2 linked regions of the Homo sapiens genome follow. The protein of the gene in region 1 interacts with the protein of each later gene in a pairwise test. Each region holds a gene or a part of one and is shown on either strand. Other genes may lie near its edges.

Region 1 (3,752 bases):
CAGAAATAAAAACATAGGTTGAGTTGAAGGAATGTTTTCCTAGTTTTGTAAGAGAAGACTTAGCCCTTAAGAAAAGAATTAATAAGAATAATTACTATTTGGCTGGGCGCGGTGGCTCACACCTGTAATCCCAGCACTTTGGGAGGCAGAGGCAGGCAGATCACAGGGTCAGGAGATCGAGACCATCCTGGCTAATAGGGTGAAACCCCGTCTCTACTAAAAATACAAAAAATTAGCCAGGCCTGGTGGCGGGCGCCTGTAGTCCCAGCTACTCAGGAGGCTGAGGCAGGAGAATGGCGTGAACCCGGGAGGTGGAGCTTGCAGTGAGCCGAGATGGTGCCAATGCACTCCAGCCTGGGCGAGAATGCAAGACTCCGACTCAAAAAAAAAAAAAAAAAAAAAGAATAATTACTATTTGTTAACACCAGTAAAGAGGACAGCATTGATTTTGGAGGGTAATTAATAAGTTGATCAGTAATACCCTTGGCACATGGAAGAATAATTGCACTGTTGATATTAAGAAGTCACTCATAGGAAATGTCATTTTTATCAGCATTTTTTTAATTGAAATGATTAGTCTTTACATGGGAGGAAGCAGCCTCTTACCTGCATAAGGATTTTTGAAATGCTCTCAGTAATTCAAAACCATGTCCAGATGTTTAAATTACTACATGTAATAGCCTTATACCTATTGCAGTTTTCTTTAACATGGTTCAGCACTTTCTCAAAGGAAATTTCAATTATTTTTCCTCAAACGATAGAAAACAAAATGAACAGGAGCAGGCTGAACTCGATGGAACCAGTGGTCTGGCTGAGTTGGACCCAGAACCAACGAATCCTTTCCAGCCAATAGCATCTGTAATCATTGAGGTATGAATGATGGCAAATGTAATTTTTGTATCTTAAGTTATAAGTTGGAACTTGGAAAAGAAGGTGGAAAGTTGGGAAAGGAGGCAGGGAAACAGATGTGTTTCTTCTGAGAGATTATTTCTATAAGAAATTAAACATGAGAGACTGATTAAAGGTTTACTGCTTTTTCTTACTCTTAAATTACCTTTGAATCTAGTGTGAAAGGGGGAATATGACTTCAGAATTAAATGACAATAAATAAATTTGACTGTAGCAATTATTATAGTTGCTGTGTTGACAAATCTATTCTGTCATTTATTTCATATAGTAATAACATATTTACTCTTATTTACATTTTCTGTGTTTCTGTATTGCTGTTACTGTCCATCTGCAATATTTACTTAGAATGCATTAGGGTACATAAACAATTTTCTATTTTTCCAGGATACTTAAGGATGTTTGAAACTGCAATAAATTCTCCTATATCTGAATATCATTTATTTCCATTTTAAATCAGAAATTTTACCAACATTAATTTGTAGATTTTAATTATGAAGACGTTAAGGGGTTGTGTGTGTGCGCGTCTGTGTTTTTGTTTTCATTTTCTGCTCATGTCCAGAGTTTGCATTGGCTCTGCTTTTATGGCTGGCAGCAGCGATGCCTCTTCTGAGGCATTGCTTCCTAAACCTTAGGCTGACTTCCTGGTCCTACCTGGAAGGTTTTTTTTTTTTTTTGTCTCCATTCTATCAGATATTATATTTGTCAAGTTTTGTTTTATGTTCTTTTAAAAATATTGAGAGAGAAGAGGTCAAGTTGTACTTTTTACTTTGAAACAACAATTATTCTCTGTGTATAATAAGGCTTGCTTTATAAATAATGGCTAATTATTTTATAGTACCATGGGTATAAATTGTGTAGAAGGCTCTAGTGCTTCTCCCAGCACCGTATTTCCCACAATGTATAGAAGTGAATAATAGTGGTGTACGACATAGTATATATCACATATAGAAAGTTCCCAAATTAATAAGTGGCATGGGGAAAGTACACTTAACGCTTTGAAACTACAATTTCAAGAAGATGGCCAGTAAAGAAATAAAAGCAAATTAGCTATAGTTTTTTTTTTTTAACCATACAGATTTTCTCTTTTTTTCCCCACAAAACTTTTTTAGCATGTTTCTTGGTACAGAAGCACCTAACATTTTTTTTTATTATTACTGCAGATAATTAAAATGGTGAGATATTGGAAGGTATTGGTTCCAGAAGAGACAGACAGATCAATGGAACGAATATTAATAAACCTATTTATGTATGAGCATTTTAGTACAAGATAAAGATAACATTTCAAATCTGAGAGAAAAAAATAATAGAACAACTTAATAACCATTTAGAAAAAGGAAAATTATTGAATATTGTATACCCAGTTAAATTCCAAAAGTATCAAAAACTTAAATACGTTTTAAAAAGTGAAAGTCTTCAAGTTACTAGTAGATAATATAGATAAGTCTTTATATGTGCTTGGAGGAGGAAAAAATTTCAAAGCAGGACAAGCAAGCCACAAATCATAAAGGAAAAAGGTGGATAGATCTTATACTACCCAATTTTTAAAGAGCTATTCTACAAAGTTAAAAAGCAAAAATGAAAAGAAGTAAACTCTAGTGAGAAATAGAACACATAGTCTTATGTGACTCTGTGACTAGTCCTAGTGACACGTATGCACAAAAGAACTCTTACAAATTACTATGAAAATAATGAGAATCTAATAGAAAAGTGGGCATTGGGTTACCAAAGGCAGTTTCCTAAAAAAAAATTAAAAATGTCAATAAGTGGCCAGGCACGGTGGCTCACGCCTGTAATCCCAGCACTTTGGGAGGCCGAGGTGGTTGGAGTTCAAGACCAGCCTGGCCAAGACGGTGAAACCCTGTCTCTGCTAAAAATACAAAAAATTAGCCAGGCGTGGCACGAACCTATAATCCCAGCTACTCCGGAGGCTGAGGCAGAGAATTGCTTAAACCTGGAGGGGTGGAGGTTGCAGTGAGCCGAGATCGTGCCACTGCACTCCAGCCTGGGCGACAGAGCGAGACTCCATCTCAAAAAAAATAAAATAAAATAATTCAATAATAGTTCATTTTTGCTGGCAATAAAAATTTTAACTTAAACTCAAATGAAAATAACACTAAGTTAAATAAAAATATGTATTAATACGGCAGAGATGTAAAAGGTCAATCATGATATGTGGTATTGAATATGATGTAGAAAAAAATCACTCTCCCAACCCTTTGCCTGAGGTTCATTGATTCATTTTTTCTGAAGGGAAGTTTGTGACTATATGTGACATTTTTAAATTTGCCTACCCACTGACTCAACAGTTCTACTGTTAGCAATTTAATCTAAAAAAATTAAAAAAAAGCTATTAGGATGATTCTGTTTTTTAAAATAGTGAAAAATTGGAAATACTTTGTTCATTGATACAGAATTGGTATGCTATAAACATTCAAAATAATAATTGATGAAAATAATTGTATCTAACATTTATGTAGCATTTACTATGTGTAAGGCACTGTTCTGAGCACTTTATATATTCATTGGCATGGAAAGAAATGTATATTCTTCAATAAAAACTTCAATTCTTTTTTGTTTAAACAACAAATACATAAGTATATATAGATACATATATTTATGTATGTTTCTGGGTGATGTATGTCTGTACATGATATAGGTATGTATGTGTGGGGGTTGGCAGAGAAAATCATCTCTTAGTGATTATATACTGAACAGATTATATACGGAATAATACAGATGAATAGTAGTCATCTCTAGATTGTGGAATTACTGGTAATATTTGTTTGCTTTTGTTATACTTTCTGTTTTACTGAATGTTTGACATTTAGCATCTTTTAATGATG
Region 2 (3,752 bases), on another chromosome or scaffold:
CAATCCAACATGTTTGAGGTTCTACAGTTAACAGATTGTATAATTAATAATCTGGGTGGGAATGTTAATCAGGAATGAAATACAATTTAAAAATTAACAAAGTAATGAGTCAGAGGCTATATTGATAGAAGCACTTTTTAAGGAATAGCATTCCCTGGCCCAAGGGCTTAGTTGATTGAAAATTTTATCTATTATTGCTAAATTTTAAATCAAAATATGGCCGGGCACGGTGGCTCACACCTGTAATCCCAGCACTTTGGGAGGCTGAGGCGGGCAGATCACGAGGTCAGGAGATCTAGACCATCCTAGCTAACAAGATGAAACTCCTCCTCTACTAAAAATACAAAAAATTAGCCGGGCATGGTGGCACGTGCCTGTAGTCCCAGCTACTTGGGAGGCTGAGGCAGGAGAATCGCTTGAACCCGGGAGGTGGAGCTTGCAGTGAGCCGAGATCGCGCCACTGCACTCCAGCCTGGGCAACAAGAGCGAGACTCTGTCTCAAAAATAAAATAAATAAATAAATAAATAAATAATCAAAATAGACCCCATTACCAAATTTTCATGTTTTCAAGGATTCTCTAAAACCTACAATATTATCAATTACATATTCACAAATAATTACTGAATACAATATGGTATGTGGTAAAGTACAAAGGAGTACTGTGGCCATTTGTGATAAATAGAAATCAAATTGGAAATCTTCATAGATAACGTATTTTTTCTTTTTTTTTTGGAGACGCAGTCTCACTCTGTCGCCCAGGCTGGAGTGCAGTGTCGCGATCTCGGCTCACTGCAAGCTCCGCCTCCCGGGTTCACGCCATTCTCCTGCCTCAGCCTCCCGAGTAGCTGGGACTACAGGCGGCCGCCACCATGCCCGGCTAATTTTTTGTATTTTTAGTAGAGACGGGGTTTCACCATGTTAGCCAGGATGGCCTCGATCTCCTGACCGCGTGATCCGCCCGCCTCGGCCTCCGAAACTGCTGAAATTACAGGCGTGAGCCACCGCGCCCGGCCAGATAAGGTATATTTTTATTCCTTTTATTTTTACTCAACTCCTATGGTGCCACAAAATCCTATATTAAGCAGTATAATTGAAAAGAAAAAGAAAACAATAGCACAATGATTATAAAGAAAATAGCCTGAGTTAACTTCATTTGTGTCACTCCTAAAGCAGTGGATCAGATGTCAATGTTTATTATCATTCACTAATTACATTTATGAATAATTTTTAAAAGTAAAGGAAAAGACTGGCTGTTTTAACTAACATAATAGAAACTGTTGCTGGATTTTCTGTTGAAGGTATATTTTGAAGTGAGTTTTATTAAGTATAACTCGCATGTAAAATTCAAAAGAAAAATTAAATACATAAATAAAATGTGTCTTCCTCCACTAAAAGAGTAGGACACATCGCAGAAGCCGATAAATATTTGTTCAATGTTTACATGAACAAACACGGTCACTCAGCCGTCTTTATTTTCAGTGAGTCATAGGTAAAATATTCTTCACCAGGCGAGGATTGAGTCGCAGTCGCGTCAGGAACTCGCCTCCAGGTACTGAGCGAGCGAGCCCCGACGGCCGCGGTGGGTGGAGGGGGGAAAGTGGGGGAGAGTGGGGCGGGAGTAGAGGGAGAGCGAGGGAGGGAGCCTCACCCCCGGGACGCTTTCTGCGCACGCGCATCTCGGTGCATCTGTTGGGCGGGACCGCGGGGCCTGTGACACCGCACGCTGAGCTCTGTGATGTAGCCGCTTGCGGAGACTGCAAGCAGCCGCGGCGCGCCCGGCCCTCCCTCTTCCGCTGCCGCCGTGGGAATGGAAACATCTGCCCCACGTGCCGGAAGCCAAGTGGTGGCGACAACTGCGCGCCACTCCGCGGCCTACCGCGCAGATCCTCTACGTGTGTCCTCGCGAGACAAGCTCACCGAAATGGCCGCGTCCAGTCAAGGTAAGGGCGGGCGCGCGCGCGGCCGGCGCCGCGGGGAGCCGCCTTCCTGGGCTCCGGAAGGGGAAGGGCTCCGCGCCCGCCAGTCGCGACCGAGCTCCCCGGGGAGTCCAAGCGGCGCGGGGACGGGGAGGGCGCTCGGGGATCGCCCCTGGCTCAGCCGCTCCCAGGGTCCGGCCAAGGTCACGCGCGTGTCTGGGGCCTAACCACCCTGGGGTGTCGTCTCCAGTGGAGCTCACCCAGCCTTCCGGCGCCGCCCCCGGCGCAGAAGCCCGAAGACATTCTGTCCCCGTTCTCGGAAGCGGTCTGGCTTCTTTGTCCCTTTGGACGTTCATCTCAAATGCCTCGTGGCGTCATTCTGTGTACAAGGCACCTCCCCAACTGCTTTATTGTTGGTTTTGAAAAACTAGCACATATGGGATGGTACTTAGGAATAGCCTTCTGTTTAGTCGGCATAGTCAAAGATTCCGTGTAATTCGCAGTGGAGCACGTCTTTAAGTTATGCGTCTTACCCTATTTTGAATGTTTAGGTTGTATTTAATTTAGTACTGACTCACGGGATCCCATTGCTAAACAGAGCCATCATTGAAAACTCAATCATATAAACGTAAAATTACGTAAATTATGTTAAAAACAAAGGCAGTGAAAATACTAAAAACTCATCACTTTTATTATTTACCATGTTTTATTGTTACTTTACTTTTGAGGTTATTTATACATCTATTGTATCTTTGTGGAGGAGATACTATACTATGGTGCTCTACTGTGCGTCTCTTCCCATCTCTGGGTTCAGTAGTTTCACAATTCAGTAATGTCATGCTCACGATGAATGAATACGCAATGGAAATTGGCTACACTACAAATCAGCCCTTGCCTAAAGCCGACTGTTAAGCATTTCACCAGCACGCCGCTAAATTTTAGATGACTCTGGGAAGGTGGAATGTGCAATGTGATAATTATGTATTTTCCTGCAGAGCAGACTGCTCTTATAGACTTTTATAAGAGCAGACTGCTCTTATAGACTTTTATAAGAGCAGACTGCTCTTATAGGTTGATCAGGTATTTGCACCTAGGAAATTGTTGTGAGAAATTTTGAGGTTAAGATGAGTTTCAATTGTTATCACAGTGATGATCACATAATAACTGTGATCATTGATTTTGTGGGCTCATAAACGAAGCTATTGGCTGACTTTTGTCTGTCATAGTGCTTAGCAGTGTTTGACCAATGACTGACCAAATATCTCGCATTTAATCTACCTTCCCCCCTACTCCCTTTTTTAGGGACTAGATCTGTCATTCAGGCTACAGCACAGTGGCACAATCATAGCTCACTGCAGCCCCAGTGGAGCCACCTGTTGATCTAAGGGGCTTGGTCAAATTACGTTAAAACTGTAATGTTTTGTTGTTACATTAGAAAAATAAATTATTTAACTACTTGAGAGGCCATGGAGTACCCAGGTACTCAGACATCCATATTTTGTTCTGCTAAATGGGCGTCTGTGATGTATCCTGAATGAATTCTTGAATTATATTTTGTGTATGGTTTAAGGTAGAGGTTGAGAGTAGTTTTTTTTGAAACACAAATATATAGTAGTTCTAACATCATTTGTTGTTTCCTTCATTGAGTTACCTTGGTGCTAAGTTATTAAAAATCAAATGACTATATGTGTGGATCTATTTCTGGATTCTGGATTCTCTTCCATTGCTATATTTGGGTATCCTTGGGTCAGTTTGACAGTGTTGAATGTCATTGCTTTATAAGCCTTGAAATTAAGATAGTTGTATATTATACTGTAGCTTTATAATGAGCCTTG

Evidence for each region.
Region 2: the proteins of ARL13B (region 1) and FUNDC2 interact in binary tests that used the Homo sapiens proteins (3 or more experiments, as listed by UniProt).

Annotation. Positions count from the first base shown.
Region 1 is NC_000003.12:94,039,119-94,042,870, forward strand, and holds part of ARL13B (ADP-ribosylation factor-like protein 13B), read left to right. Parts: intron 1-761; coding exon 762-870; intron 871-3,752. UniProt on the Homo sapiens protein: Cilium-specific protein required to control the microtubule-based, ciliary axoneme structure. May act by maintaining the association between IFT subcomplexes A and B. Binds GTP but is not able to hydrolyze fit; the GTPase activity remains unclear.
Region 2 is NC_000023.11:155,025,131-155,028,882, forward strand, and holds the start of FUNDC2 (FUN14 domain-containing protein 2), read left to right. Parts: upstream 1-1,713; 5' UTR 1,714-1,808; coding exon 1,809-1,941; intron 1,942-3,752. UniProt on the Homo sapiens protein: Binds directly and specifically 1,2-Diacyl-sn-glycero-3-phospho-(1'-myo-inositol-3',4',5'-bisphosphate) (PIP3) leading to the recruitment of PIP3 to mitochondria and may play a role in the regulation of the platelet activation via AKT/GSK3B/cGMP signaling pathways.